7 linked regions of the Homo sapiens genome follow. The protein of the gene in region 3 purifies or fractionates together with the protein of the main gene of each other region. This does not show direct contact. Each region holds a gene or a part of one and is shown on either strand. Other genes may lie near its edges.

Region 1 (4,085 bases), about 95 Mb from region 3:
TGTAGTCAAGGTATGAGTTATCAAATACACAAACCTTCTCTTGTGGAAAGTAATAAGTGGCCACAGGAGCACCCACATTCATATCATCCCCGTGTTGGGAAAGAAAGGAAATGCTAACTGCTGAATCTGCATTGTCTGGTATGAGGCACCTAAGAGTATCTAATGTTTGAGTATTGAAATTGAAGTACACAATAAATGCAAGTGGTTTTATTTGTAAATGAATCTTGAAATCTTGACAAGTTACCAAACTCATCAGTGAGAACCAGTTAGAGAGAGTGATAGAAGAGGTTTTACTTTGTTGTTAAGTGATCATTCAAAATGGGAACCAAAATTTCTTTGTAGTGAGAAAGTTGATTTTCCATAAGGGGAAAAAAAAGGAACTGATTTTGGAGAACATGAATTTCTTTGATAAAGTTGTATAATGTAATAGCACAATAAGACATATTTCATATTTGATTTTTTCAAAAATTTTATTTCTGAGAGCAATTTTAGGTTCACAGCAAAATTGAATGGAAAGTATAGAGTTCCTGTATACCCTCTGTCTCTACACATGCATACATTTGATTTTTCATGATGATGTCACACATATACTTTTTTTTCAAAAATATTTGAGGCCCTTACTGTTTTCCAGAGATCTCTCAGTAATTTCTTGAAAACAGCTTGTCGTTTTCTTTTCACTAGTTAATTGGCTATTTCTTCCTGAACATCACTGGCCAATGAGCATATGTGTGTTTCTGATTTGAAGTTTTCTAATATTTAAACTCTTTTCATTACATATTTTTTATTATGAAAAATATCAAATATTCAAAAGACAATATAATGAACCTCATCACCTATCTTCACTTAATTAACTCATGGCCAGTTATGTTCTTTTCATCATCCCCTTTCCCCATTGTTTTTGAAGTATATTATTTATTCATGAATGTTTCCAGTATATATCTTCAAAGGAAAAGGAATTTTTTAAAAAAAGCAATACCAATACTATTATAAAACCTAAAAAAATTAACATCTATTATCACTTTGATCAATCTCATAAGGTTCTGCTTCTTTGCCAAATTTGTGATTTTACTTCTGAGTTTCCATTTCATTTGCATTTTTTTGCCTAAGGTTTACTGTAATCAAATCTCATGGACAGAGATCAAGAAAATAGCTCATTAATGAACATTTTCACATTATGACATCTTTCATTTCTGCCTTTTACCTTTGAAGACTTAGACTCAATCCTGGGGTAACAAGTATTCTCTTAAGTTACCTTCATTTAAAAAATGAAGACACAAGAGGCTCATAGGTTAGTGTACAGTCATGGGTTAATACAGTGTAGTAGAGGCAGACATCAATCTTCTTTGAACACAATTTTTTGAGTGCAATGCGTGGGCTGGGCACTGGTTTTGGCGTTTGGGATGTATCAGCGCAAGTTTTCTGCCCTCTGGAAGTTTCAGTGCGCTCTTTCTTTTTTGTGTGTTTTTTTTTGAAGAGATGGTCTTGGTCTCTTACCCAGGCTGGAATCATAGGGAGTGCAATCATACCCCCCTGTTTTAACCTTGAGCTCCTGGCCTCGAGCGATCCTCCCATCTCAGGCTCCTGGTTAGCTTGGACTACAGACATATACCACCACGCCAAGCTAATTTTTAAAGTTTTTCTTGAGACAAAGTCTCACTATGTTGCTCAGGCTGGCCTTGAACTCTTGGGCTCAAGTGATCCTCCACCTTTGCCTCCTGAAAGTGTTGGGAAAGTGTTGGGATTACATGCGTGAGCCACTGCATATGGTATGTGTCCTTTTTTTTTTTTTTTTGACACTGAGTCTCGCTCTGTTACCCAGGCTGGAGTGCAGTGGCGCGATCTCGGCTCACTGCAGCCTCCACTTCCTGGGTTCAAGTGATTTTCCTGTTTCAGCCTCCTGCGTAGCTGGGACTACAGGTGCAGCCACCATGCCTGGCGAATTTTTCTGTTTTTAATAGAGATGGGGTTTCACCTTATTGGCCAGGATGGTCTCGATCTCCAGACCTCATGATCCGCCTGCCTCAGCCTCCCAAAGTGCTGGGATTACAGGCGTGAGCCACCGTGCCCAGCTGTGTGCTTTATTCAGTGCACATTTTTGTTCATTTAGGACAGACTAGGCCAGGTGGTAACTTCATCAAAAACATTGAAGAAAATAGGAATTCTGAATGTATTATTTGAAAAGAAAATCTCATTCTGACCACTGTGTTTTAATGCCTTACTTTGAGGCACTAAGAAAGGCAGTTAGAAAAAAGAAATGTACCGTTTGATGTTCTGAGATCTGAATGTCACTTAAGAATGGTTTTCCCAAGTGTTCTTTCTGCAGTGTTGTAAAATAAAATTGTATTTGAAATACCTGTTGTTAATTGAAGTGGAGGCAAATTTTTACTGTTTTTTTTTTTTTGGCAAGCTTGTAAATAAGCATATAACTATATAACTTCTAAGAACTGTTTTTCTTATGGAACCTGGGAATTAACTTTTTTCTGCTAAATGAGACTTATTTTTAGAGAATCCCTTTCGCCCCTGTAAAAAGTAGAGGTTCCTCTTCAAAGACTTTCCTCCCCATCTAATTAGGAATAAATAGTAACTTCTCTTACAAGCAAAATTTATTCAAAGACCCTTGCAAACATTCTTAAATATCTGCTAGCCATAATGAAGAAATCAATGTACTTTATGTTCTTAGCTCCCACAATTTAGCCTAAATATTTGCCCTGGCATGCTTATACTGGTCCAAGCAAGCATTAGGTCATAGCCTGTTCCTCTTCCTTATTTGAAGGTGTTTTTATCTTTCTCAGCATTCCACAAGTTACTTCCTCCTTCCTTTGTTCTCTGCCTTTGCCTCTTTTAAAAAGTTCTAAGTTGCTAGCCAATCGGGACAAATACAGAATGTGAGGTCCCGTTCTAGCAAGTGGAAACCGGACACAACAGTAGGGTGGACGCTTCGGGTTATAAATGACCCTGTCTCCTTTGTTGGGTGTACTCTCCTGGCAAAACTGCTGGCGAGTGTACCTTTTCTGCAGAAAGTATAAAAATGGCCTTGCTGAGGAAATTAAATTTATGTTGAAGTGCTGTTTCTTTACAGCAATGGGGAATGAGCATTTCAAACATCCCCCTTCCCCCCCTTATTTTTAGACAGTCTTGCTCTGTCGCCCAGGTTGGAGTGCAGTGGCGCTGTCACAGCTCACTGCAAACTCAACCTCCCAGGCTCAAGCGATCTTCCCATCTCAGCCTCTGGAGTAGCTGGGACCACGGGCATGTATCAGCACACCCAGCTAGGTTTTTATTATTTTATTTTTATTTTTGTAGAGACAGGGTCTCACTATGTTGCCACGGCTGGTCGCAAACTCCTGGGCTCAAATCTTCCTGCCTCGCCCTCCCAAAGTGCTGGGATTACAGGCATAAGCCACTGCACCTAGCGCCTCTTCCCTCCTTTTCAAATACAAAAATCCTAATCTATGTTTCTGTCTAACCTTTGTAGAAAATTAGATCAAAATCTCATTCTATATGAACACCAAACTGAGAGCATGGTAGTAAAAACGGTAAGCAAACAACAACAGCAACAGAAAACCTCTACATTCATTGAGACCTCTATTGGAATGTTAAAAGCAGCACATACTATAAATATTCCCATTTGGAACCTTGAGGTTGACTACTTCTGTATTTGGTTTACACTTAACATTTCTTCTCTCTCTTTCTTTGAGACTGAGTCTTGCTCTGTCACCCAGGCTGGAGTGCAATTGTACCATCTTGCCTCACTGCAACCTCTGCCTCCCAGGTTCAAGCGATTCTCCTGCCTCAGCCTCCTGGGTAGCTAGGATTACAGGCATGCGCCACCATGCCCAGCTAGTTTTGTACTTTTAGTAGAGACTGGGTTTCTCCATGTTGGTCAGGCTGGTCTCGAACTCCTCACCTCACGTGATCCGCCTGCCTTGGCCTCCCAGAGTGCTGGGATTACAGGTATGAGCCACCGCGCCTGGCCAGTCCAGTGGTTTTCAAACCAGGTGATACATCTGTGGAACATAAAAAAAAATTCAAAAGCAACTGGTACCCAGAGCCCCACTGAAGAACCGTTAAGTTATAGCATCTTT
Region 2 (4,085 bases), on a different chromosome or scaffold from region 3:
TTGTGAAATAAAGTCAGAATAAAGTCATTTAAAAATTATGGGTCATTCAAAAACAGGAAAATCATATTCTCAGACACCTAGCCACACTTCACTGCCTGCATTGCATCACAGAAAAGAAACTTGCCTTTAAAAGTCAGAGGATAATGTCTTAACCAATTTGGGAGAATAAAATGCAGAAGCAGCCATTACAATGTATTGAAATAGCCTCAGCTCTAACTTCACTGCCTGGTACCTAGAAGCAATCTTCAGTAAGTGGAAAAGAAACATTTCCAGTGAATTACATGAAATCACAAGAAAGGTTATAATTTGACTTTACGGCAACACAGCCCATTTCGAAGCAAGTAATGTCTCTACTACAGTATGGAGAACCATCTGGAAGAAGGGGAGTTGCTATTAGGTGCTTCTTTTTCTGATTATTACTTCTCATCATGCTCAAAAACTGCTCATCAACTAAAATGTATGCTGCTCCTCATGTTCTCTCTACTACTAATTCGGGTATTTTAAAAGCTATCTTTTTTTTTTTTTTGCCTCAATTTTGTCTTCCTCAACACTAATTGCAAATTGCTTTCCTTTTGTAATAATAAAAAGAGAAAGCAAAAATTAGTTTCTTTTATGTGGGACCTCACAGGATAAATTAAAAAGAAGGGCAGTGTGCAGAAATAAGTGAACCTGGGTCCAAGACTGCCATCTTTAGCAAGGCTTGTTTGCAAGGTTGGCCCTTGGCTGGTATCTGACAAGCTGGCTGATAAAACAAATCCCTACACTGATATAAATACATTCCCTCAGTGATAAGAATGGCTCACTGTGCCTCAACTGTTTGTATAAATGATGTGATTTATGTTGAACACCTTTCCTTCTGGAAATCTAGAAAAAGTTCTTTATGTTGCCAGTATCTAAAATTTCAAGATGATATCCCTTACACAGGTCAATTTTCACCCACTGTAAAACTGCTATTGCCACTCATCTTTTTATTGCAGCACTAAGCAGACCCTCAATCCAGAAACCAATGTCCTTCAGATTAGAAAACTAGAGTTCAAAGATGTTAAGTGCCATACAAATAGTAAATGACAGGCCAACAAAATTCTTTAGGGCTAAATTACAAATACATGGCTCATTATAAAACTGTCTCTTCTTCAGTGATATAAACTTATTTTTATTTGCCTTAATCCCTGAACTCAATCCCAAAGCAGATTGTGGCCTTATTCTTAAAGGTGTACTGTACTTCAAATCACAAGCTGATTGGTTCTGGTCAGGTGCAGTGGCTCACACCTATAATCCCAGCACTTTGGGAGGCTGAGGCAGATGGATCATTTGAGGTTAGGAGTCCGAGACCAGCCTGGCCAACATTGTGAAACCCCATCTCTACTAAAAGTACAAAACTTAGCCAGGCTAAGTAATCCCAGCTACTTGGGAGGCTGAGGCAAGAGATCACTTGAATCCAGGAGGCAGAGGTTGCAGTGAGCCGAGATGGTGCCATTGCACTCTAGCCTGGGTGAACAGAGGAAGACTCCATCTCAAAAAACAAACAAACAAACAAACAAACAACAACAACAACAAAAAACAAGCTGACTGGATTTAGACTAAATACAAATGTATGTAGGCAAATGCTTTTTTTCCTTACCCAATAAGGTGAATCCTTATTATCCAAGGGAGAATGGAGTCAGGCTACTTTATTTTAATCCTCACTTTTCCACTTAATACTGGAAGGCACTGGGCAAATAATTTAACCTCTCTAAAGCCTTATTAGTTTGCTAAATTGTAAAATTAAGATGGTGAAAGTATCTATTTCACAGGTTGGTATGAGAAGTAAATAGTGTAATTATAAAACATAGCACAGTGCACAGTGCCTGGTACCTAGCAAGTACTTCATAAAAATTAGCTATTGCTGTTGCTATTAATGATATAAAACTATATAATACACTGCATCATGGTTACCTGACTGTATGTATTGTCTCCCTCACTGGGTCACAGGGACTATACACTTTTGTATTCTCAGAGCCTGGAACACAATATACTCTCAATAGCTTTTTTTTTTTTTTAATGTCTAAATCCTTATAAAGAAAAAAAGGGAAGAAAAAGATCTCTAAAATGTTACTCTCCAGTTTAAATTTAGCAAATGTAAACATGGTCAAAATGATCTCACTTGGTTCTTATTCACAGAATTTCTTTAAGGGATGGAGGGCAGACAGAAGGTATAATCATAGCTACCATTTCCTGAATGCCTAACATGTGCTACGGATGTGCTAAGTATTTTATATACACTATCTCACTTAATTTCCACAATAACTCTACAAGGTAAGAACAGTTAAAATCCTCCTTTTACAGATAACACTAAGGGTTTAAAAAACCTGCCAAAGGTGAAAGGCAGAAAGTGGTAAAGCCAGGACTCAAAACCCATGCTCTCTCATTATTCTACACTGCTTTCCCATGAAGTGCAAGGAAAGGAATTATTAGCCATCAAAAACACAAAGAACAGGAAACAAAGAGATCCCTGAAGTGACAGCTATACATTGTATCTTGATTCCTAACAAGCTCTAGTAATAACATTTTAAAAACCTAAAAAAAAAAAAAAGATGTTAATCTTGAATAGGACCACAAAACTCACAGGGTATCAAAAATGTTGAACCTCCCCCCCCAATGTAAAACCAACTGCAATTTGGCTGAAAACAGAGCTCAAAAAGTACTATCTTAAAGAAATTACTCCCCTACACCACCCACTGAAGAGATAAAGACAACTTTTTTTTGAGACAGAGTCTTACTCTGTCACCCAGGCTGAGCGCAGTGGCGCGATCTCAGCTCACTGTAACCTCCGCCTCCTGGGTTCAAGCAATTCTCATGCCTCAGCCTCCCGAGTAGCTGGGATTACAGACAAGTGTCATCACAGTCAGCTAATTTTTGTATTTTTTAATAGAGATGGGGTTTCACCATGTTGGCCAGGCTAGTCTCGAACTCCTGGCCTCAAGTGATCCACGTACCTCAGCCTCCCAAAGTGCCACCACACCCGGCCAAGATAAAGACAACTTTTGTCAGACTAACACACCTGATGCCAGAGCTGGCTGGCTAACCAGTTCAAAGAAAACAGGCATTTGATAGCTTTAATAGAACATTATGAAGAATCATTTCAGTTACGTTTCTCCACTGCACATTTGAATAATAAAAAATTCTACAAAGACACTTCACTGAAGGTATGGCATCAGGAACTCCATAAGTGCTTAGGAAGGATATTAAACACAACTCAGGTCTGAAGGATATGTAGTCAGTACAGGAAGGCATTTTCCAAATTAACTCATTTGAGGGAATACAGCCTTCTGTTCCCATGCATCTCACCACACTCAAAGGGATAGGGTGGGATCAAAAAAAGAGACAAAATAAGCCAGGCACAGTGGCAACATGTTTATAACTTCAGCACTTTGGGAGGCCAAGGTGGAAGGATCGCTTGAGTTCAGGAGTCTGAGATCAGCCTGGGCAACATAGCAAGACTCCTCCGTATCTACAAAAAAATGTAATTTAAAAAATTAGCCAGGTGTGGTGGTGCCCACCTAAAGTCCCAGCTACTTGGGAGACAGAGGCAGGAAGATGGCTTGAGCTCAGGAGGTATAGGCTGCAGTGAGCCGTGATTGTGCCACTGCACTCCAGCCTGGACAATAGAGTGAGAATCCATCTCAAAAAACAAAAGGACAAAATCCTTGGTCATTAGGATATGTCCAGCAAAACAAAATTGTTTTGAGTATGACACATGAACACCTTCAATTATCTTATTTTAATCACAGTGAAAACAGAAGTTATGCAGTGATATAAAAGACCTGAGTGGATTGCTTCATAAAGTTCCCTGGCTTGATAATAAGACTCAAAGGATTCCTCAATTCACACTGGAGAGATGAAGAATTACCAAGGGTGAGAGTGGTGTCAATGGTGACCCTGTTCTGATTTAGACAGAACTGAGCATGGCTTTAAGAAAAATAAACTTTTTCTCTCCTTTATCCCAGTTTAGAAAGTAGACAGAAGCTGCAAAGGGGGAAAGTAGTAGGAGATGAGGCATCCGAGAGAAACCATTTCCTAGTTATTAGGCTAAAGAACTTGAACTT
Region 3 (3,617 bases):
CTACTATGCCTGAGAATCGTATGCCATAAATTAGCACAAATGGCCGTGGCATCCATGTGGACAGTGTTTTTTGTTATTTATTTTCAAGAATAATTAATTAACAAAATATGTTTTTCTTGAGGTTCTTTTACATTTCTGTCAAGGGATCATCCTTAAGTTGTGTGTGCGCTTATGAGTGTATGTGCATGCATGATTGTATGTATTTGGGGATTTATTTCTACATTTTCAACAGAAATTTATCTTTGTTATTTCAAAGTTTTCAAGGTTTGTTGATGCTTCTCTTTACTAATTTATTTCAGAGAGTATCATCCTTTAACAATTTGCTTTAAGTTGCCTTGAAAGCTGGGCAGCAAGGGTTAGAACAGTAGTAAACTGCGGCACTGATGTCCAACCTGGTAGGCCTTATCTTCATGGCTCATGCTATTGTTTTGAATTGTACCAAAACACTGCTCCTTCTAGGTCTGTACATAATGCTCCAACTTGTCATTAGTTGACCAAAGCCATCTTAGCATGCAGGCAAAGAAGATGCATGGCTGTTTCTGGGCTTTAGGATTTCTTCTCTGTTGAAACATGGCTGAACCAAAGGAGAAGCTGCAGCTTTCCACCACCAAGAAAACATCAGAGATGGGAAGGGTGGAAGAGAGTCTGCTCTGCCAAGTCCACCTGAGAGGCTGACTCTTAATGGGCTCAATACGGAATGGCCCTGCATTCCAGCATGGCATGATAGGACATTCTTACTATAGGCCAGGCAGGTCCCAAAGATACTAACCACCTGGAATTCTAATTGAGGGTGTAACTTCTTACTTTTCACTTTGTCATTTCAGGGAGTGATAGTCAACCATTTCTCGGGGCAAATAGGCCTACGGCTATTGTTCTTTGTCATCTCAGATTTCCTTTTTACTTTACAGCTTCACTTCTGTGGTCTGTTGGTGTTGTTAAAAGAAGTCTTCTGTGTAACAGGATATGACAAGAATGACATTTCTTGTTTTATTTACCCCGGCTTTTATGCTGACTTTTTAGGGCTGCCTTAGCATGTGTCCCGTTCTGTATGAACACATGCAGCCACCAGTTTTCGATTCTTCTTTGTTTAGAGTGGAAATTGAAATGTTTTCTCCAGAACTTTTAGCGGCTCCCTTTCCTTTTGAATCTGGAAGTCAGCTACTCTTGTAGGACACTCTACATTATATCACTGTATTAGTCCGTTCTTGCATTGCTATAAAGAAACACCTGAGACTGGGTCATTTATAAAGAAAAGAGATTTAATTGGCTTACGGTTCCATAGGCTGTTCAGGAAGCATGATGCTGGCGTCTTCTTGGCTTCTGGGGAGGGCTCAGGAAACTTACAATCATGGCAGAAGGCAAAGAGGGAATGAGGCATCTCACATGGTGGTTGCAGGAGCAAGAAAGAGAGGGGGGAGGTGCTACACAGTTTTAGACAAGCAGATCTCATGAGAACTCACTATCACAAGAACAGCACTAAGGGGATGGCACTAAACCATTCATGAAGGATCCACCCCCATGATTTAATCACCTCCCCTCTCCAACATGGGGGCTCACAGTTTGATATGAGATTTGGGTGAGACACAGACTCAAACCATATCAATTGCCACGTGGTTTAATATTAAGTATACTGAGGAGTAGAATAATGTTCTGGTTAAGAGTGCAAGCCCTAGGAAAACTACTGGGTTAGAATCCTACTTTTCACCATTTTCTTTCTCTGTGACCATGGGCAAGAAATTGTCCTCAGTTTACCAGTAAAATGAGGCTTACCTTAATATGACTTACCTTAAGGCTTATGGTGAAGATTGAATGCTTGAACACAAGTTATAGGAGTACCTGGCTGATAGTGCACACTCAGTATGGGTTTGCTACTGTTTGTATTATGTAAAGCTTATCACAACCCTATCAAAGCATCAAGACACTTATTATCTATCATTTTACTAAAACCAAAAAAAAAAAAATGAGCTCAGAAGATCTACCATGACTTGCTCACCTATGACAAAGGCAGTTCCATAAGCCCAGTCTTCTCAGCTTTAGTCCAATTTTTTTCCCATTCTATGACATTGCTGTTGTAGTCTCTGATCAGTAAACTAAGAAGCATTTCATTGGCCTCTGGTATAAAAGAGACACAGAACCAAAGAATAATGTCCTAGGATATTGAATGAAACTTCTTCAAAGAACCCTAAGTAATAAAATGTGAGTGGTTAAAACCTTAAGGATAATTCTGGGTAGAAATGAGGTACTGTAGATAGCTGGGTAGAAATGAGGTACTGTAGATAAGCAGGAGGTGGTGGGTGGGAAACAGAGAAAGTAAAAGAGGAGGAAAAAAAATGGAAATACATGGATGAGAAAAGTCTAACATGTTGGTAGGATTAGAACCAGAATAGAAATTATTAGGTTGGTGCAGCCGGGCGCGGTGGCTCACGCCTGTAATCCCAGCACTTTGGGAGGCCGAGGCGGGCGGATCATGAGGTCAGGAGATCGAGGTCATCCTGGCTAACATGGTCAAACCCCGTCTCTACTAAAAATCAAAAAAAAAAAATTAGCCAGGCGTGGTGGCGGGTGCCTGTAGTCCCAGCTACTCAGGAGGTTGAGGAAGGAGAATGGTGTGAACCCGGGAGGCAGGGCTTGCAGTGAGCCGAGATCACGCCACTGCACTCCAGCCTGGGGACAGAGTAAGACTCCGTCTCAAAAAAAAAAAAAAAAAAAAAAAAGAAATTATTAGGTTGGTGCAAAATGAATTGCGGGTTTTACAATTTAATAAATGAGTGAAAAAGGTGATTGTGATGTATAATTCGAAGCACCTGCTTTTCACCCCAGCTCACCACATGGCCTATTAGTATACAAGAGAAAAATGATGAGTAATGAAACAACTGTATAATGAAACAACTGTTCTGACCCATTGCGTTTTACCATCACAATTTTCATTTTATTTTAGATTTCGAGAACGTGCTTCAGAGGGAGAGAGAGGGCCAGAGACATAAATATTTTCATATCAAATGAGCAGACCCATGTTTTGATAAAATGCTTGCAGTTTTTCCTCAGCTCTAACTGAAACCACAGGATGAGCGCCCATTTACGTTCATTTTCAAAACACATATGTTCTTCAGAAGCTGGTGTCCTTTGAAAAATATCACCTAGAAACTTCAGAGTTCACTGCTATGAAATGTCTTGCCTAAAAACCCCAGGACTGGCCTGAATTTGAGTCCTTTCTGCATTAATTGTTAAGAGATCTCTTTTGTAATATGGATATTGAAATTACCTTGTTTCTTGGTTTTGTTTTTTGTTTCCTCTTGCCTAGATACACAGTACTGTTTGACAGTTCATCACTTCACCAGCCACGGAAGAAGCACATCCATCACCAAAAAGTGTGCCTCCAGAAGTGAATGTCATTTTGTCGGTTGCCACCACAGCCGAGATTCTGAACATACGGTAAGGATCGTGTGTGTGTGTTATTGTCTAAACTTTCATCCTAGTAATGTAAGTCGTAGATCAAAGGAGAGGCAGGAAGGATAGTAATATGTGGACCATGTTTACATTTTGAGGAAAGACTCCATACAAAGATAAAATGGAGACCAAAGAACAGACTCCATACAAAGGTAAAATGGAGACCAAAG
Region 4 (4,085 bases), on a different chromosome or scaffold from region 3:
AACAGAAATAAAATTGAGATCAGTGGCCAACCATTTTCACGCAATTTATCAGATTTTCATTGTCTCTTGAAAAATCAGGGCATCTGTAGGCAGTAAGCAACAGAGCTGCATGTCAGCTGTCCCTTCCCCACAGGGCCTCGCGCTCCAGGTGGCCATGGCCCACATCTTGCCCAATCACCGACTGAGGTACTTGCTGATAGGTAGGGGCGCCTGAGTGTGTGACCCTCTGGCCACTTTCTCCCTTACCACAGACTGGTGTTTGACGTCTATGGCTGTGTGGGTACCACAAAGGGAGAGGGGTCTAACTCTGGGTCTGACCATCTCAGGTGTTCCCATGTGATTGTATCTGTGCCCTGCAAACCCCGGAGGCCCTGGTTTTACCACGTCCACCTACCAGAAGACCCACTACTGCCATCTATCACGGCTCGGTGAGGTGCACAGGACTATGCCGCCAGGAAAGGCAGAGGAGAGGGAAATGTCCTCCCGCCTCCAAGTATACTTGTCTCACATTCCACATGAGCTCATCTCACCCTCACAAAATCCCCGCAAAGAAAGTATGAGCACCCCAATTTGCAGATGAGGAAAACTGAGGCTTGCAGAGGCAAAGTGTCTTGTCCTGGGCCCCACAGCTGGTAAACACTGAGGAAGGGATTTCAATCCAGAGAGTTCTGCCGAATGAGTGCAATGTGAGGGTCAGTTCCAAGGGCACTTCACAGCGTTCCGCAGGGGACCTGTGGTCAGTCCCCAGAGGGGTTTGCAAGGGCGAAGACCATTCAGAAAGGGTGGCCAGGGTTGGACCGCTACATACCACTTTCCCCTGAAGACTTGGAGACTCTTTCTGCACACCATGAACATACTCTTGGACCCAGCAAGACATCAAAACACGCCAAATATCACCAGGGTTTCCCAAAGTTCTTAAAGGATACTTTAGGTAATTCTATATGTTGGTGTGAAAGTGGGAGGGGAGAGAAGATCTAGTGAAGAATAATAAAAATCAGCAAGAAAAATCAGCAAAGCAGGATAGCACCATGTGAGGTGCCAGGCTCTGGGACCCCAGCTCTGCACCTCACCAGCTGTGTCCTGGGCCACTCCCATTCCAGCTCTGTGCCTTGGCTTACCATTTTAAAACTGAATAAAGAAAACATTAACGGAGTGAAAACGCAACTACAGAATGGAAGAAAACATTTGCAAACCATACACCTGATAAGGGGCTAATATCCAGAATATATAAGCAACTCCTTAAACTCAGTGGCAAAAATAAACTTCTATTTTATTTTATTTAATTTTTGAGACGGAGTTTCACTCTGTCACCCAGGCTGGAGTGCAGTGGCACAATCTCGGCTCACTGCAACCTCCGCCTCCCGGAGGTTCAAGCAATTCTCCTGCCTCAGCCTCCCAACTAGCTGGGACTACAGGCGCATACCACCATGCCCAGCTAATTTTTGTATTTTTAGTAGAGATGGGGTTTCTCCATGTTGGCCAGGTTGGTCTCGAACTCCTGACCTCAGGTGATCCACCCACCTTGGCCTCCCAAAGTGCTGGGATTACAGGTGTGAGTCACCATGCCTGGCCAAAAACCCTCCAATTTTAAAAAGCACAAAAAATGTGAATGGATATTTCTCCAAACAAGACATACAAATGGCCAAGATCTTGAAAAGATGCTCAAAATCTCTATTCATCAGGGAAATGCAAATAAAAATCACAATGAAATGGCACCTCATACCTGTTAGGATGGCTATTACCAGAAAAACAAAAGACATGTTGGCAAGATGTGGGGAGAGGGAATGCTTGTACACCGTTGGTGGGGAGGAAAGATAGTGCAGCCACTATGGAAAACAGGAGGAAGATTTCTCAACAAATTAAAAATAGAGCTACCATAGGATCCAGCGGTCCCACTTTGGGGTATTTATCCAAAAGAATTGAAATCAGGATCTCAGAGACATCTGCACTCCCATGCTCACTGCAGCATTATTCATAACTGCCAAGATGTGGAAACAACCTAAATGTCTATTAATGGGTAAATATTGGTATATATACACCTTGAAATATTACTCAGCCTTAAAAAAGGAAATTCTGTCATTTGTGACACCATTGATGAAACTGGTGGACATTACGTTATGTGAAATAAGGCAGACACAGAATGAAGACTGCATGATTCCACTTACATGAAGTATCTAAAATAGGCAAATATGGTGAAACCCCATCTCCACTAAAAATACAAAATTAGCTGGGCTTGATGGTGCATGCCTGTAATCCCAGCTACTTGGGAGGCTGAGGCAGAATTGCTTGAACCTGGGAAGTGGAGGTTGCAGTGAGCCGAGATTGCGCCATTGCACTCCAGCCTGAGCAACAAGAAGGAATCTCCGTCTCAAAAAAGAGGGTGCTCTGATGTTAGGTATTCTTACCACACAAAAAATAACCAAATTAATAGTATGACTATAAAGTGACAGCATGAGATGTGAGGGGTGATAGAGATGGAGCTGTCCTGTATCTGGATGGTGGTGATTACATGATAAACAAGCCTTAACTTTCATAGAAGAGTGCACAAACACACATTAATTTTATCATATGCTAACTTTAAAAATAAAACAAAGAAAATAAATCATGAATCATTGTATCTGTCTGTAAGGCCAGTGTGATTTTATAAGTCCAATGACATGCCTAGCCCAGTGCTCAAGACATTACAAGCTGAAGGGCCGTGAGGTATTGCTAATAAGATGAGCATTACTTCTCCTCCTCCAAAGATATTCAAGACCCAGACCAGAATCTGAGAAAGGAAAGCTAATGCATGGAGGGGCTATCACAACGCCAGTCCCCAGTACATCAGGGACATCCGGGTCCTCTGACTTTACTAACTGTAATTACAGCCAGGCCTCTCATCTCGAATAGGGTTTCCACCTTTTGGAGAAACAGAATGGTTTGTCCATTTCAAGCGGATCTGCCTTCCTGTGTAGCTGTGCTGCCTGGCAGGTGCCAGGAGGAAGGCTAATTGTCAAGGGCATGAGGATTACGCTGTCAGAGGCACCAGCTGTTTCCCAGCATTTCTGAGGGTCGGTTTCCCTGGACATAAAACAGGAAGGATCATGCCCACTCAGAGGGAGAAGAGGTATCTGTAAAGGACCCCACATGTCCCCTGGCTCTTGGCTGTATGGAGAACCCTGAGTTCACCCTGCCTCTCCCGTGGGTCAAGATTTTTTTTAAACAAAGACAGCCAGCGTTGGAGGTTTTTTTCCTGTCCTGTACTTTTCCCACATATACAATCAATGTAATTAAGTTAATAGACCTAAAAGTTAAAGCTGACAACAGACAATTAGGCTAATTGCCACTTCCTTAAAGGATCAATTAGGGCTGTGTTTCCCAAACTGTGTTTTGAGAAATGGCACTAGCTGCTCCATAAACAACAGGGCATCTGAGACTATACATGTGGCAAATGTTGGGCTGAACCAAATAACTCTGGTTCGCTCAGTGCCGGACTCTTCAGAGTCCTCAGTGAGGCAGCCAGTGCGGCATGGAGGGACACAGACTGGAGGACACTGAGTCAAATCAATCATACAGACCAGGGCTTTATACATTTTAATGAATACATGAATCACCTGGGGATCTTGTTAAAATACAAATTCAGATTCCAGGTGGGCACTGAGATTCTCCACTTCCAACAAGCTCCAAGGTGCTGCTGAAGCTGGCATCTGGGACTGCACTTTGAAGAGCAAGGTTATTAGTAGAAAGTTACGGCCCCTTACTGTCCACTTCACTGGTGGGGTAACAGAGTTGCCGAAGGTCATGCAGGAGTGATGGGTGGGACGGGAACTCCACGCCCCAGCCTCCCGAGGCAAGGCTCTCCACCGCCACCCGACCTGGCTCCCCTGCTGCTCTCAGCCCTGCTTGCTATTGCTTCTCCCAATTCAGAGCACTTCTCCTCCGTCTTGGCTGTGCATTAGAATCACATGAGAGACTTTAATATACAGCCAGGGTTGAGGCTCACTGATTTAGATGTACCGGGTAAGCCTCACCCCAAATACCCTCTTCACACCCTGCCTGTCTCTCCCACGCCTGACAAAAACTGGCTAGGAGTAACTCCAAATAAA
Region 5 (4,085 bases), on a different chromosome or scaffold from region 3:
AGGCGCGAGCCACCGCGCCCGGCCAACCATTTTCAAGTGTACACTTCAGTGGCATTAGATACATTCGCTATTGTGCAACCATCACCACCATCTGTCTCCACATCTTCCCAAACCAAAACTCCGTCCCCGTTAAACACTAACTCCCCCTTCTCTCTTCCTCAGCCTTGGCCCACCTCCATTTTACTTTCTGTCTCTGTGGATTTGACTACTCCAGGGGCCTCACATGGGTGGAACCCTGCAGTGTTTGTCCTCTCTGTCTGGCTTATTTCAGTAGCATCATGTTTTCAAGGTTCGTTCACGTTACAGCATACATCAGAATTTCCTTACTCTTTTTTTTGTTTTTGAGACAGAGTCTCGCTCTATTTCCCAGGCTGGGGTGCAATGGCACTATCTCGGCTCACTGCAACCTCCGCTTCCCAGGTTCAAGCGATTCTCCTGCCTCAGCCTCTCAAGTAGCTGGGATTATAGGCACACGCCACCACACCTGGCTAATTTTTTTTTGTATTTTTAGTACAGACAGGGTTTCACCACGTTGACCAGGCTGGTCTCCAACTTCTGACCTCAGGTGATCCGCCCACCTCAGCCTCCCAAAGTGTTGGGATTACAGGCGTGAGCCACCACACCCGGCCCAAAATGTCCTTACTTTTTAAGGATGAATAATATTTCATTGTATGAATGTAGCACATTTTGTTTATTGTTGCATCTCTTTGTTTATAGTTTTTTGGTTTGTTTTTTTTTTTTTTGAGACAAAGTCTTGCTCTGTTTCCCAGGCTGGAGTGCGATCATGACTCACTGCAACCTCGATCTCCTGGGGTCAAGTGATCCTCTCGCCTCAGCCTCCCAAAGTGCTGAGATCAACTACAGGTGTGTGCCACCACACCCAGCTAATTTTTTTATTTTTTGGTAAAGAAGTCTCACCATGTTGCCCAGGCTGGTCTTGAACTCCGAGGCTCAAGCAATCCTCCTGCCTCAGCCTCCCAAAGTACTGGGATTATAGGCGTGAGCCACTGTGCCCAGCCTATATTTTTATTCCTAAGTAAAATTATTTTCCCTTACTTCCTTCTACGGCCTCCTCTGCTTGCCCAGCTAGGCTGAACCACAGGAGGCCAGGACAGGATTCTCAATCTCAGCACTATTAACATTTGGGGATGGACCATTCTTTGTTGTGGGGGCCTACCTTATGCATTATAGGATATTCAGCTGCATCCCTGGCCCCCACCCTCTACATGCCACAGCACCCGCTCCAGTCGCGGGGTCTCTGGACATTGCCACATGTGCCCAGGGGAGGTGGGGTAGATTGCCCCTGCTTGAGAACCACTGGGCTCAAAGAGCTTTCTGCAGTGATGGAAGCGGTCTCTGCACCATCCAGTCCAGCAGCCCCCAGCCTTGTGGCTCATGAGCACCCGAGATATGGCTAGTGCAGCCGAGGAGCTGCATTTTAAATTTTATTTCATTTCAAGTAATTTTAGTATAAATGTAAACAGCCACATGTGGCCGGCAGCCGCAGTCTAGCATGGCACTGACTCAGCCAGTTAAGGAACATTATTCCCCTCCTCCCTGGGGAAGTAGGAATCTGATCACAAACTTAAGAAAAAAAGAATAGACAAGGCCTGGTGCAGTGGCTCATGGCTGTAATCCCAGCAATGTAGGAGGCTGAGGCGGGCGGATTGCTTGAGGTCAGGAGTTCAAGACCAGCCTTGCCAACATGGTAAAACCCTGTCTGTACTAAAAATACAAAAATTAGCTGGGCGTGGTGGCAAGTGCCTGTAGTCCCAGCTACTCAGGAGGCTGAGGCATGAGAATCATTTGAACCCAGGAGGCAGAGATTGCAGCAAGCTGAGATCACGCCACTGTACTCCAGCCTGGGTGACTGAGCAAGACCCCATCTCACAAAAAAAAAAGAGAAAAGAAAGAAGAGACAAGACAATTCCCCTAGCCTGGTACTATAGTTTGTTCCAAAAGGCAACTGTAATCATAAACATATACTCCAAATCCAAATATCCATGATTGGGGGATTTTCTTCTGGTTTAGGTGACATGTACTTTTTTCCCTTCTAAAAATCAATGTGTGCTTAGTGAGCACCTGTTAGGTGCCCAGCCCCGTGTTAGAGACAATGGGAGATTCCCACGGTGAGATCCTTGGCTCTGGTCATCATGGAGCACACAGATGTTCCGAATGGGGAGACTGGAAAAGAAAGAAAATAGATTTTGCTTGTGGAGAATTGTGAATAGTAAGTGAATGCTTAGAAGGTGCAAAAGGGGCCGGGCGAGGTGGCTCACGCCTGTAATCCTAGCACTTTGGGAGGCCGAGACGGGCAGATCATGAGGTCAGGAGATTGAGACCATCCTGGCTAACACAGTGAAACCCCGTTTCCACTGAAAATACAAAAAAAAAATTAGCCGGGCGTGGTGGCGGGCGCCTGTAGTCCCAGCTACTCAAGAGGCTGAGGCAGGAGAATGGCGTGAACCCGGGAGGCGGAACTTGTAGTGAGCCGAGATCGTGCCACTGCACTCCAGTCTGGGCGACAGAGTGAGACTCCATCTCAAAAAAAAAAAAAAAAAAAGAAGGTACAAAAGGAAGAGAGACTCTCACAGGTCCAAGGGTCTAGACAGACTTGCTGCTGGAAGAAGGTGGTGTCCTTGCCTATGGATGGGGAGGAGGTCATTGCAGGGAGGAAGATGCAGGGCTGTGAGTTGGGCAGGGAAGACTCCTGTTATCTCCCCTTGGGTAAGATCTTCCCTCCCTTCCTTAACATGCTCACAGCTCCTGCTTTGCTGGGTATCTCGGTCATCAAGACTTCTATCCCTCTCCTTGGGGATAATAGGAGACTTCCCCCCCTTTTAAGATGCATTTCTGGACTTCCTAAAATGTTTTATTATGAGCACTTTTCTTATTCTCATTCCAAGACAGAGTCTCCCTCTGTTGCCCAGGCTGGAATGCAGTGGTGTGATCTTGGCTCACAGCAACCTCTGCCTCCTGGGCAATTCTCGTGCCTCAGCCACCCAAGTAGCTGGGATTACAGATGTGTGCCCCCATACCTGGCTAATTTTTGTATTTTTAGTAGATACGGGGTTTCACCATGTTGGCCAGGCTGGTCTTGAACTCCTGACTTCAGGTGATCTGCCCGCCTAGGCCTTCCAAAGTGCTGGGATTACAGGCGTGAGCCACCGCGCCCGGCCTACAATTCAGTGGTTTTAGTATGTCACAGAGTTCTGCAACCATCACTACAGTCAAAAAGAAATCCTGTATTCTTGAGCTATTACCCTCCTGACTCCCCTCCCCCTCCCCCAGCCCTAAGCAGCCACTGGTATACTTCCCGTCTCTATAGATTTCTCTATGCTGGGCTTTCCTGGGAACGGAATCATACGTGTGACCCTGTGTAACCGGCTTCTTTCGTGTTTCCAAGGGTCATCCATGTTACAGTGTGTATCAGAATTTCATTCCTTTCTATGACTGAGTATTCCACTGTATGGATAGACCACGTTTTGTTTATCCGGTCATCATTTGATGTGCATTTGGGTTGTTGCCACCGTTTGGCCATTGTGACAAATACTGCAATGAACATTGGTGTGTGAGATTTTGCAGGGACCTGTTCTCATTTTTCCTGGGTGTATCCCTGGCAGTGGAATTGGTGGGGTCGGGGGTGGGGAGGGGTTGGGTGACTTTAGGTTTAACCATTTGAGGAGCTGGCAGACCGTTTTCCAAAGCAGCTGCACCATTTTACACGCCCAGTATTATCTATGATTTTTACAATAAGAAAAAAAAAATCAAATGGAGAAGGGTAGAGGGACAAAAACCACCTGTGGTGCAAAGATCTTACCAGCTAACTAATGCCCTCAAAAAAAACACAGAGGAGGCAGGAGAGCTGGGGTGGCCGCACAGCACGCACGGTGGCGCGTGGCAGAGGCATGGTCTGCAGTGTGGCATTCGGGGGCTGCTGCAGCTGTGCACAGAACAGAGCACGGGAGGAAATTTCCCAGCGTGTCAGCATCTGCTGTGTCTCCTTTTCAGTTCTTTCCTGTATTAAACCTTTAAAATTATGGCATTTATTACGTTTGTCATCAGAAAAATAAAATCTGGAGAGA
Region 6 (4,085 bases), on a different chromosome or scaffold from region 3:
CATGCCTGGATTCAACTAACCATGGAATGAAAATACTCAAAAAAAGAAAAACAATAAAAAAATACAAATTTTAAAACAATATAACAACTATTTACATAGCATTTACATTGTATTAGGCATTACGTGTAATCTAGAGATGATTTAAGGTATATGGAAGGATGTGAGTAGGTTCTATGCAAATACTATGCCATTTTATGTTAGAGACTTGCATATTCTTAGATTTTGGTATCCTCGGGGAGTCCTGGAACCTATCCCCCTACAGATACTAGGGGGTGGGTATATCTTTTGCCAAAATCTTATCAGTATCAGAATGACCACAGATAATGCTTTCATCTTGGACCCTAGCAAAGCCTGGGGCCGTCGTATCTTTTTTTGTTAATTTCTTTTTTTCTTCTTTTTTTTTTCCTGTGGTTTTTCAGAGATAGCCCTCATCAAGTGCTAGAGCACTACTTCTTAAACTATCCATAGTAAGAGAATAACATTTTTTCCTTAACCTGTTGCCAATCAATATGTTGTCCTACTCCTATGACTAATATGTATCTTTTTTTTTTTGAGACAGTCTCGCTCTATTGCCCAGGCTGGAGTGCAGTGGTGCAATCTCAGCTTACCACAACCTCTGCCTCCTGGGTTCAAGCGATTCTCCTGCCTCAGCCTCCTGAGTAGTTGGCACTACAGGCGTGTATCACCATGCCTGGCTAATTTTTGTATTTTTAGTAGAGATGGGGTTTCACTATGTTGGCCAAGCTGGTCTCGAACTCCTGACCTCATGATCCACCCACCTCAGGCTCCCAAAGTGCTGTAATATGTATTTTGTACTACATGTGGCACACCACAGGAGTTTGATGAACCCCAAGCTGGCTTATACCATGTTCAGTGAAATGAGACTGATACATGCTCAAATGTCATGGCCATGTCAAATTACTGCAAGTTGTTGAACACTTAATTTCTGTACTTATAGGTTATTAACAGTCTTCAGACCACAAGTTTAGTTGCACTGTAGTTGAGAGTCTCATTTTGTCTGTCTAGGCACACTTGCTTTTAGTCAGGAAAAGTGGCACTGCTTGAAGGCTCTGTATGATTCTGAGCTCCATTGGGAATGGGAGTTCTGATTGCCCTTTCCAAAGAGCTGCCAAATTCTCACCCTCAGCTGCCTTTGGGTCAAGATAAGGCCTGTTTCCCCTTTGGGGCTAGACTCCTCTGCACCTATATCTTCCTTTCTCTTTTCTTCCTCAGACTGAGTAAGCTCATTGACTTACCTTCAAATTCATTAATTCTTTCTTCTAACTGCTCAAATATGCTGTTGAGCTCCTCTCATTAATTTTTTATTTCAATTATTATACTTTTGAATTCCAAAATTTTTATTTGGTTCTTTTTGTAATTTTTATCTGTTTATTGATTTGTCTTCATGCCTTCCTTTATTTAGACATCGTTTCTTTTAGCTATTGGAACATATACCCTAAATTCCTCTGTTTTATTCATCCATCTGTGTGTGTCTCTTAATTCTGTCACCTTTTCTCTGAAGCCACTGCCTCTGACTTAGTTCAGTCCACAATAAACTCATACCTGGATTATCTGAATTACTGTAGAAACCTAATTTCTTCAAGTATTATTTGCTCCAGACTTTCTCTCCTTTCCTCTTGGATTTTTAGTTACCTATATGCTAGATCTTTTTCATATATTCCTAATCTCTCTCACACTTTGTTTGGTTTGTTTATTCTTTTCTTTGTAGTTTAGTTACTATAACAGTTGATCTGTTGTCACGTTTACTAATCCCTGTCTCTTCTGCGTACAGTCTGCAATTAAACCCACCCAATAAGTTCTTAGAGTTCTTAATTATAAATATTATATTTTAAAAACCTTAAATATCTCTTTGATTCTTTTTAAACAGATTTTAGTTCTGTCAAAATTTTTCTTTTTAGAAATTTTTGTACTTTTTAAAAAATATATTGATAGTTATTTTAAAGTCCTTGTCTAAGTAATCTTTGGGGTTTTTTATTGTCTTTTTTTTTTTTCCTGTTTCATTTCAATATTTGGTCCTTTTCTCTTTGCATGACTTTTTTTTTTTTTTGTGAGAGCCAGAAATTGATGAAAAGCTGTAGAAGCAAAGAGCTAAGGTTTGTTCTGGTATCCTCAGTGCCAGATGCTCACTTGCTTCTGTTGAAGCTTGTTTTTAGGCTTTGTGAAGGCTCTACTATTTTTGTGTCTTACTTCTAGGATCTGGCCTTACTGGGTCTCAAATGAAAGTCTACAGTGTATATAGTACTATATAGTACTTGGACTTTGGTCTCTGTCTTCTCAGTACTATTTTATAGCTGTGGTTTCAACCTCTCCGTTTCTCTTTCCTTCTGGCTTTTGTAGAGGTGTTACCATGTATATGTGCAGGATAGGAGTCAGCAAATGACTTGAGAGGAATTTGTATGGAGATTTTTCTGGTTTCCTGCAGTTTCCTTCTCTCCTACCCTCTCACCCTGCATCCTGCCCTCAAATCTCAGCACTTTGGCAGCCCGTACTTTGACTTCTGCTTTCCAACTCAGTATTTCTCCAGGACGCAATCTGGGGACCCAGGGATGAAGTTTAGGTGAATGTGGAGCTTGCTGCTTATGCCTCCTGCTTTCAAGGACCATAATGCCTCACTTCTTGATTGGTGGTTGCTTCCCCGACCACATGCCTCTAAACAGCAGTTTATATGTTTTCTCCAGCTTGTATAGTGGATTAGAACTTGATTTCTAAGATGTTGATTTTATAATTTAATTTTTATAAGCCATTTTATTTTCCTTATATCCAAGCCTTTAAATTGAGAGGGGAGGTGGAGAGGGCTTCATTTACTGCTGATAATTAAAATAAATATTCATCTCTCTTAAGTGGTTTATGGAGAGTAATTTTCATACAATTTTACGTTGGGATATGAAAAACAAACACAAGTGAAAGGAATTGTTTTTGAGAGAAGGCTTAATGTAAAAGGCTACACAAGTATAAAATTGTTGCACATAATGTATTCCTTAATTTAGAGAATATTAAACTAGCTCCTCTATTTAATCAGAAATATAGAAAATTCTATGTATATTTTTATTTATCACGATATAGTAAAAATCTGGCTTTGAAAATGATTTCAGTGTTAATATAGCTTTCACAAGTGTCTGCGTTCTTTTCTAGTGGATTAATGACTTAGAAAATGATGATTTGTATATTACATGGCCTACAAGTTGCCAGAAACTTCTGAAGCCAGTATTTCCTGGAAGTGTACCTTCCATAAGGCGCAATTTTCATAATTTGGTGAGTTTTATATTTTGATTATACATATATATCTTATAAAGATATCAGCATTCTTTCTGGATTATCCTTCTGTCAATGAATAGGCATCTGAGTTGTAAGGAAGTTAAGTATTTGCCTGAAGCAGCAAGCTTAGGTGGCATGGCTGACTGGGTATCAACAACTAGCCATGTCACTGTATTAGTCCGTTCTCATGCTGCTAATAAAGACATACCTGAGACTGGGTAATTTATAAAGGAAAGAGGTATAATTGACTCCCCAGCATGGCTGGGGAGGCCTCAGGAAACTTACAGTCATGGCAGAAGGGGAAGCAAACGTGCTTCTTCACATAGTGGCAGGAAGGAGAAGTATGAGCAAAAGGGGAAAGCCCCTTATAAAACCATCAGATGTCCTGAGAAGTCACTATCACAAGAATAGCATAGAGGCAACTGCCTCCATGATTTAATTACCTCCTACTGGGTCCCTCCTACGGCACATGGGGATTATGAGAACTACAATTGAAGATGAGATTTGAGTGGGCACACAGCCAAACCATATTAGTCACATGTTCTGCCTCTTACTCTTTAGCCCTTATGTCATTTTATAATAACCATATTAATGTTACTTTTACATTTTTTCAAAAGAATTTATGACAGAACTTTTTCTTCTTTATTAAAAAGAACTAATGATTAAAGTGTAGTAATTTTAGGGAAAGATACATAAATACCACTTTATCATCTATGCATATAATTTTATTAGCCCAATAATATCTAAACATTAATATTGGAACTTTGAAAGTTGGAGAAAATACCTACGGCTGTTTTTTCACATAGGAA
Region 7 (4,085 bases), on a different chromosome or scaffold from region 3:
TGGGAATTAAAAGCAGAAGTAGTTAAAAGTTTGTTTTTCAAAGCAGGTAAAATTGGGAAAAGCAAGAATTTTTAAAGTGATATTCTTGAACATATTGATCAATTATAAGTTTTTAGGAAAACTTAGCAAGAAGACTCTAGCTTACATTCAGCTTCCACTGAATCTCAACTAATTCTAGTTGTTTCTTAAATATATTTATGAGTAAAGTATTTGGAACTTTATTTTTTAAAGCTATCTAATGCATTTTAATTACTGCATTTCAAATTGCTAAATTCCTTTCAATATTTAATGTAAGTATTAAATGTGACAATCATTTGAATTATTGAAGAAGAAAAAATATCTTTGGTGGTCATGTGATGATTATTGAAACATTATGCAGTACTTTTACTCATAAATTATTTATAGGAAGTAAGGAAATATTTTTAACTGGGAGATTATTGAGAGAATTTTGGTTGACTAAGCTATAGATAATTAGAATATTTCCATGTTATCAAGACATTATCACTATTGAGAAAAATGATTTGGTGTTAGATGTAACATCTGAAGGTTATGACTGTAGTTGTTCTGATAACAGCTTTTTCATTATTCTGGAGTTCAACGTTTCAGGAGTAAGGACTTAATTTGTTTCTGTTTTTGTTTTTTGTCCAATCTCTTTTGCATTTGCCATAGCCTAAGTCCAAATGTGTTTGTGAATATTGGGAATTGTCCATTGGGTGAATGTAGTAGATGGAAATGTCAGCTTAGGACCATGATTTCTATTATTTCCCTGCATAGAGATAGAGAAAATGATAAAGTATACTTCTGTCTATGCTTGCCTTGCTGTGGATACCTTTTTATGTAAATGTTTATCCCTTTACATGTCCTCCCTCATTTTTACTGATATCAAAGAAACGGACAATGGGAATATGAAAATTTGCTACGCTCCATCTCTGGTTGAACCTAATTGTCTGCCTTCTCTTAGTCTACAGTGGAATCACTGAATGATAATGAAGAAAGTTATGACCACAAATTTCAATGGGTGCTCAACACTGTGCATCAGAGCAGCCTCACACTGTTGCTCTCCAGCTGTACAAAATGACTATTTTACACTTTCATGTCTCTCAAACTTTAATACTTCCCTTCATCCCCGCCCCACTTCCAGATTCTAACCTTTCATTCACAATGAAAAGTACTCGTTTTCCTACTGTCAATAATTTCCCAGCTTTCCAACATCTGTACTCACATTGTGATAGAAGCAGAAAGCTCCTATCAAAAGCTAGTCAATGTAGTTGCTATCCCTTTCCAGCTTCTCAAAGATTTCGCCCCTTCTCTTGCATTATCATTGCCTTTTTTTGCCAAATTGTTTCTTTTGGCCTTAACATGCTCTTATTATCTCCTTTCTTTAAAAATTTTCTCTTAATTATCTCACATTCCCCTTCAGCTATTGCCTTATTTCTCTGCTGCTTTCGTAATGAGAATCCTCAGAAGAGTTGTTGATAGATGCTCTCTCCATTTTCTTGCCATCCTTCATTTATTTATTAACCAACCCCCATCTGCTTTTCAACCCCCTTTTCCTCTGAAACTTTTAATCAAAGTCACTAGTGACATTCACCAGTTTAAAGGATATTTCTCTGTTAGTACCTTACTAGATTTTTCGACCCGGTTGCATTTAACATAGGCTGTCACTCCTTCTTGAAACACTTTCCTTTCTTGGTATCTATGATATCATATTTGCCTATTTACTCTTATTAATTCTGGTGGGTTTTCAGTAACTGTTGTTCGTGTTTCTTGTTCTATCTCCTTCTGAATATTATAATCAAACCCCTTAGTTTGGGCTCTCTTCTCTTCTCTTTACATACACTCTTTCTCTGGGTGATTGTGTCAGTTCCTCATAGCTTTTAATATCTCCTGTAAATTCATGACTCACAAATATATATATCAGCAATCTGATCTTCTACCCTGAATTCCAGACCCTTATGCCTGATGTCTGACTGCTATTTTGACAGTATGTTTTTGTTATTGTTGTACATCTTTTTTTTTTTTTTTTTTTTTTTTTTTAAAGACAGTCTCACTCTGTCACCCAGGCTGGAGTGCAGTGCACAATCTCAGGTCACTGCAGCCTCCCCCTCCTGGGTTCAAGCAATTCTCCTGCCTCAGCCTCCCAAGTAGCTGGGATTACAGGTTCCTGCCACCACACCCAGCAAATTTTTGTATTTTTAGTAGAGATGGGGTTCCCCATGTTGGTCAGGCTGGTCTTGAACTCCTAACCTCAAGCAGTCCATCCGCCTCGGCCTCCCAAAATGCTGGGATTACAGGCATGAGCCACTGCACCCGGCCTATTGTTGTACGTCATAAATCTACATGTTCAAACTAAAACTTAATGCAGCCTCCTACCCTTCCTGTTCCGTAATTGGCTCCTTCTTGGTCCATTTGCTTATTTGAATAACCTGTGAGTTTTTCTTGATTCCTTCCTTTTCCTCAAGTCCCATGCCAGCTCATCAGCAAGTTCTTTTGTTCCTGTATCTAAACTATAACCTGGGTCTTTTCATCTCACCATCATTTCTTGTCTCCTAATTAATCTGCCTGTACCTACTGTTGTTCCATTATAATGTATTCTCCATGCAGGAGCCAGAATGAGTATTTTAACATGTTAAATCAGATTATATAACTTTGCTGTTTAAATCCCTTCAGAAGTTCCTAATTGCATTTGGAAATACAACTACAAAAGAAAAAAAAATCAAACTCCTCACTGTGGACGTATAAGAATTTATATGGCCTGCCCTTCCCTGTCTCTCTAGCCTCATCTCATTCAATTTTCTCAGTACTTGATGATTGTTACACTCTAGATGTACTACTGATTTCTTTCGGTTATCAGAGAATTTCCGTGCCAAATTCTGCCCTGCCCTGCCCTGCCCTCCCCCGCCCCACCCCGCCTCCACCCTGCCCCCACCCCCTCCCCTCCCCCCTCCCTCCCTCCCTTCCTCCCACTTGCTTGCTTTCTCTCTCTCTCTTTCTCTCTCTCTTTTCTTTCTTTTCTTCCTTCTTTTCTTTTCTCCTTCCTTCCTTTCTTTCTTTTTCTTCTTTTTAGACAGAGTCTTGCACTGTTGCCCAGGCTGGAGTGCAGTGGCGTGATCTCGGCTCACTGCAAGCTCTGCCTCCTGGGTTCACGCCATTCTCCTGCCTCAGCCTCCCAAGTAGCTGGGACTACAGGCGCCTGCCACCATGCCCGGCTAATTTTTTATACTTTTAGTAGAGACAGGGTTTCACCGTGTTGGCCACGATGGTCTCAATCTCCTGACCTTGTGATCCGCCCTCCTCGGCCTCCCAAAGTGCTGGGATTACAGGCGTGAGCCACTGTGCCCTGCCATTTTCTTTTCTTTCTCTTCTCTTCTCTTCTTCTTTCCTTCCTTCCTCCCTTCCTTCCTTCCTTCCTTCCTTCCTTCCTTCCTTCCTTCCTTTCTTTCTTTCTTTCTCTCTCTCTCTTTTGTTTCTTTCTGTCTCTCTCTCTTTCTTTCTTTCTGTCTCTCTCTCTTCCTTCCTCCCTCCCTCCCTTCCTTCACTTCTTCCCTCCCTTCCTTCCTTCCTTCTTTCCTCCATCCCTTCTTTCCTTCTCCTCTTTCTCCTTTTTCTCCTTTCCCATCTTTCTCTCTTTCCTGTCTTTTCTTTTCTTTCCCTCTTTCCTTCTTACACTTTGTTCTTAGTGTTATTCTCTGTATGCTTGGGAAGCCCTTGTCCTGGCTTATCACTTGGCCAACTTCCTTTTCCTTGAGTCTCAGCTCAAATGCCATATAAGACAAGTCTTTCATAACTACCCTAGGTAAAGTCCTCTTTCCTTTTTCTTCTTGCTGAAATTTTATTCTCTTCTATATAACCCTGTTTATTTTGTGAAAAGCAATTATAAAAATTTATAATTTTCTTTTACTATGATAAGCTCTCTTGAAGACAGGATATTGTCTATCTTGTTGTCTCTGAGTAAGCATCTTTTTTCCCCAACAATATTCACCCTCTAAAGATACGATTAAAAGTGTGATGAGACATTTTGTTATCTTTAAGCTGATATAGACTAGATAGGGTATATTTAGCTTTATTTTAGTCTTTAGATTATA

Evidence for each region.
Region 1: the proteins of LYPD6B (region 3) and PSME4 purify together in Homo sapiens (affinity purification with mass spectrometry; one large-scale study listed by BioGRID and IntAct). This does not show direct contact.
Region 2: the proteins of LYPD6B (region 3) and SPCS2 purify together in Homo sapiens (affinity purification with mass spectrometry; one large-scale study listed by BioGRID and IntAct). This does not show direct contact.
Region 4: the proteins of LYPD6B (region 3) and ERGIC1 purify together in Homo sapiens (affinity purification with mass spectrometry; one large-scale study listed by BioGRID and IntAct). This does not show direct contact.
Region 5: the proteins of LYPD6B (region 3) and TIMP2 purify together in Homo sapiens (affinity purification with mass spectrometry; one large-scale study listed by BioGRID and IntAct). This does not show direct contact.
Region 6: the proteins of LYPD6B (region 3) and UGGT2 purify together in Homo sapiens (affinity purification with mass spectrometry; one large-scale study listed by BioGRID and IntAct). This does not show direct contact.
Region 7: the proteins of LYPD6B (region 3) and DCAF6 purify together in Homo sapiens (affinity purification with mass spectrometry; one large-scale study listed by BioGRID and IntAct). This does not show direct contact.

Annotation. Positions count from the first base shown.
Region 1 is NC_000002.12:53,960,717-53,964,801, reverse strand, and holds part of PSME4 (proteasome activator complex subunit 4), read left to right. Parts: intron 1-4,085. UniProt on the Homo sapiens protein: Associated component of the proteasome that specifically recognizes acetylated histones and promotes ATP- and ubiquitin-independent degradation of core histones during spermatogenesis and DNA damage response.
Region 2 is NC_000011.10:74,958,990-74,963,074, reverse strand, and holds part of SPCS2 (signal peptidase complex subunit 2), read right to left. Parts: intron 1-4,085. UniProt on the Homo sapiens protein: Component of the signal peptidase complex (SPC) which catalyzes the cleavage of N-terminal signal sequences from nascent proteins as they are translocated into the lumen of the endoplasmic reticulum.
Region 3 is NC_000002.12:149,209,691-149,213,307, forward strand, and holds part of LYPD6B (ly6/PLAUR domain-containing protein 6B), read left to right. Parts: intron 1-3,301; coding exon 3,302-3,432; intron 3,433-3,617. UniProt on the Homo sapiens protein: Likely acts as a modulator of nicotinic acetylcholine receptors (nAChRs) activity. In vitro acts on nAChRs in a subtype- and stoichiometry-dependent manner.
Region 4 is NC_000005.10:172,840,349-172,844,433, reverse strand, and holds part of ERGIC1 (endoplasmic reticulum-Golgi intermediate compartment protein 1), read right to left. Parts: exon of another isoform or gene 3,564-4,085; intron 1-3,563. UniProt on the Homo sapiens protein: Possible role in transport between endoplasmic reticulum and Golgi.
Region 5 is NC_000017.11:78,866,073-78,870,157, reverse strand, and holds part of TIMP2 (metalloproteinase inhibitor 2 precursor), read left to right. Parts: intron 1-1,927; exon of another isoform or gene 1,928-2,184; intron 2,185-4,085. UniProt on the Homo sapiens protein: Complexes with metalloproteinases (such as collagenases) and irreversibly inactivates them by binding to their catalytic zinc cofactor. Known to act on MMP-1, MMP-2, MMP-3, MMP-7, MMP-8, MMP-9, MMP-10, MMP-13, MMP-14, MMP-15, MMP-16 and MMP-19.
Region 6 is NC_000013.11:95,948,523-95,952,607, reverse strand, and holds part of UGGT2 (UDP-glucose:glycoprotein glucosyltransferase 2 precursor), read left to right. Parts: intron 1-3,153; coding exon 3,154-3,273; intron 3,274-4,085. UniProt on the Homo sapiens protein: Recognizes glycoproteins with minor folding defects. Reglucosylates single N-glycans near the misfolded part of the protein, thus providing quality control for protein folding in the endoplasmic reticulum.
Region 7 is NC_000001.11:168,005,953-168,010,037, forward strand, and holds part of DCAF6 (DDB1- and CUL4-associated factor 6), read left to right. Parts: intron 1-4,085. UniProt on the Homo sapiens protein: Ligand-dependent coactivator of nuclear receptors. Enhance transcriptional activity of the nuclear receptors NR3C1 and AR. May function as a substrate receptor for CUL4-DDB1 E3 ubiquitin-protein ligase complex.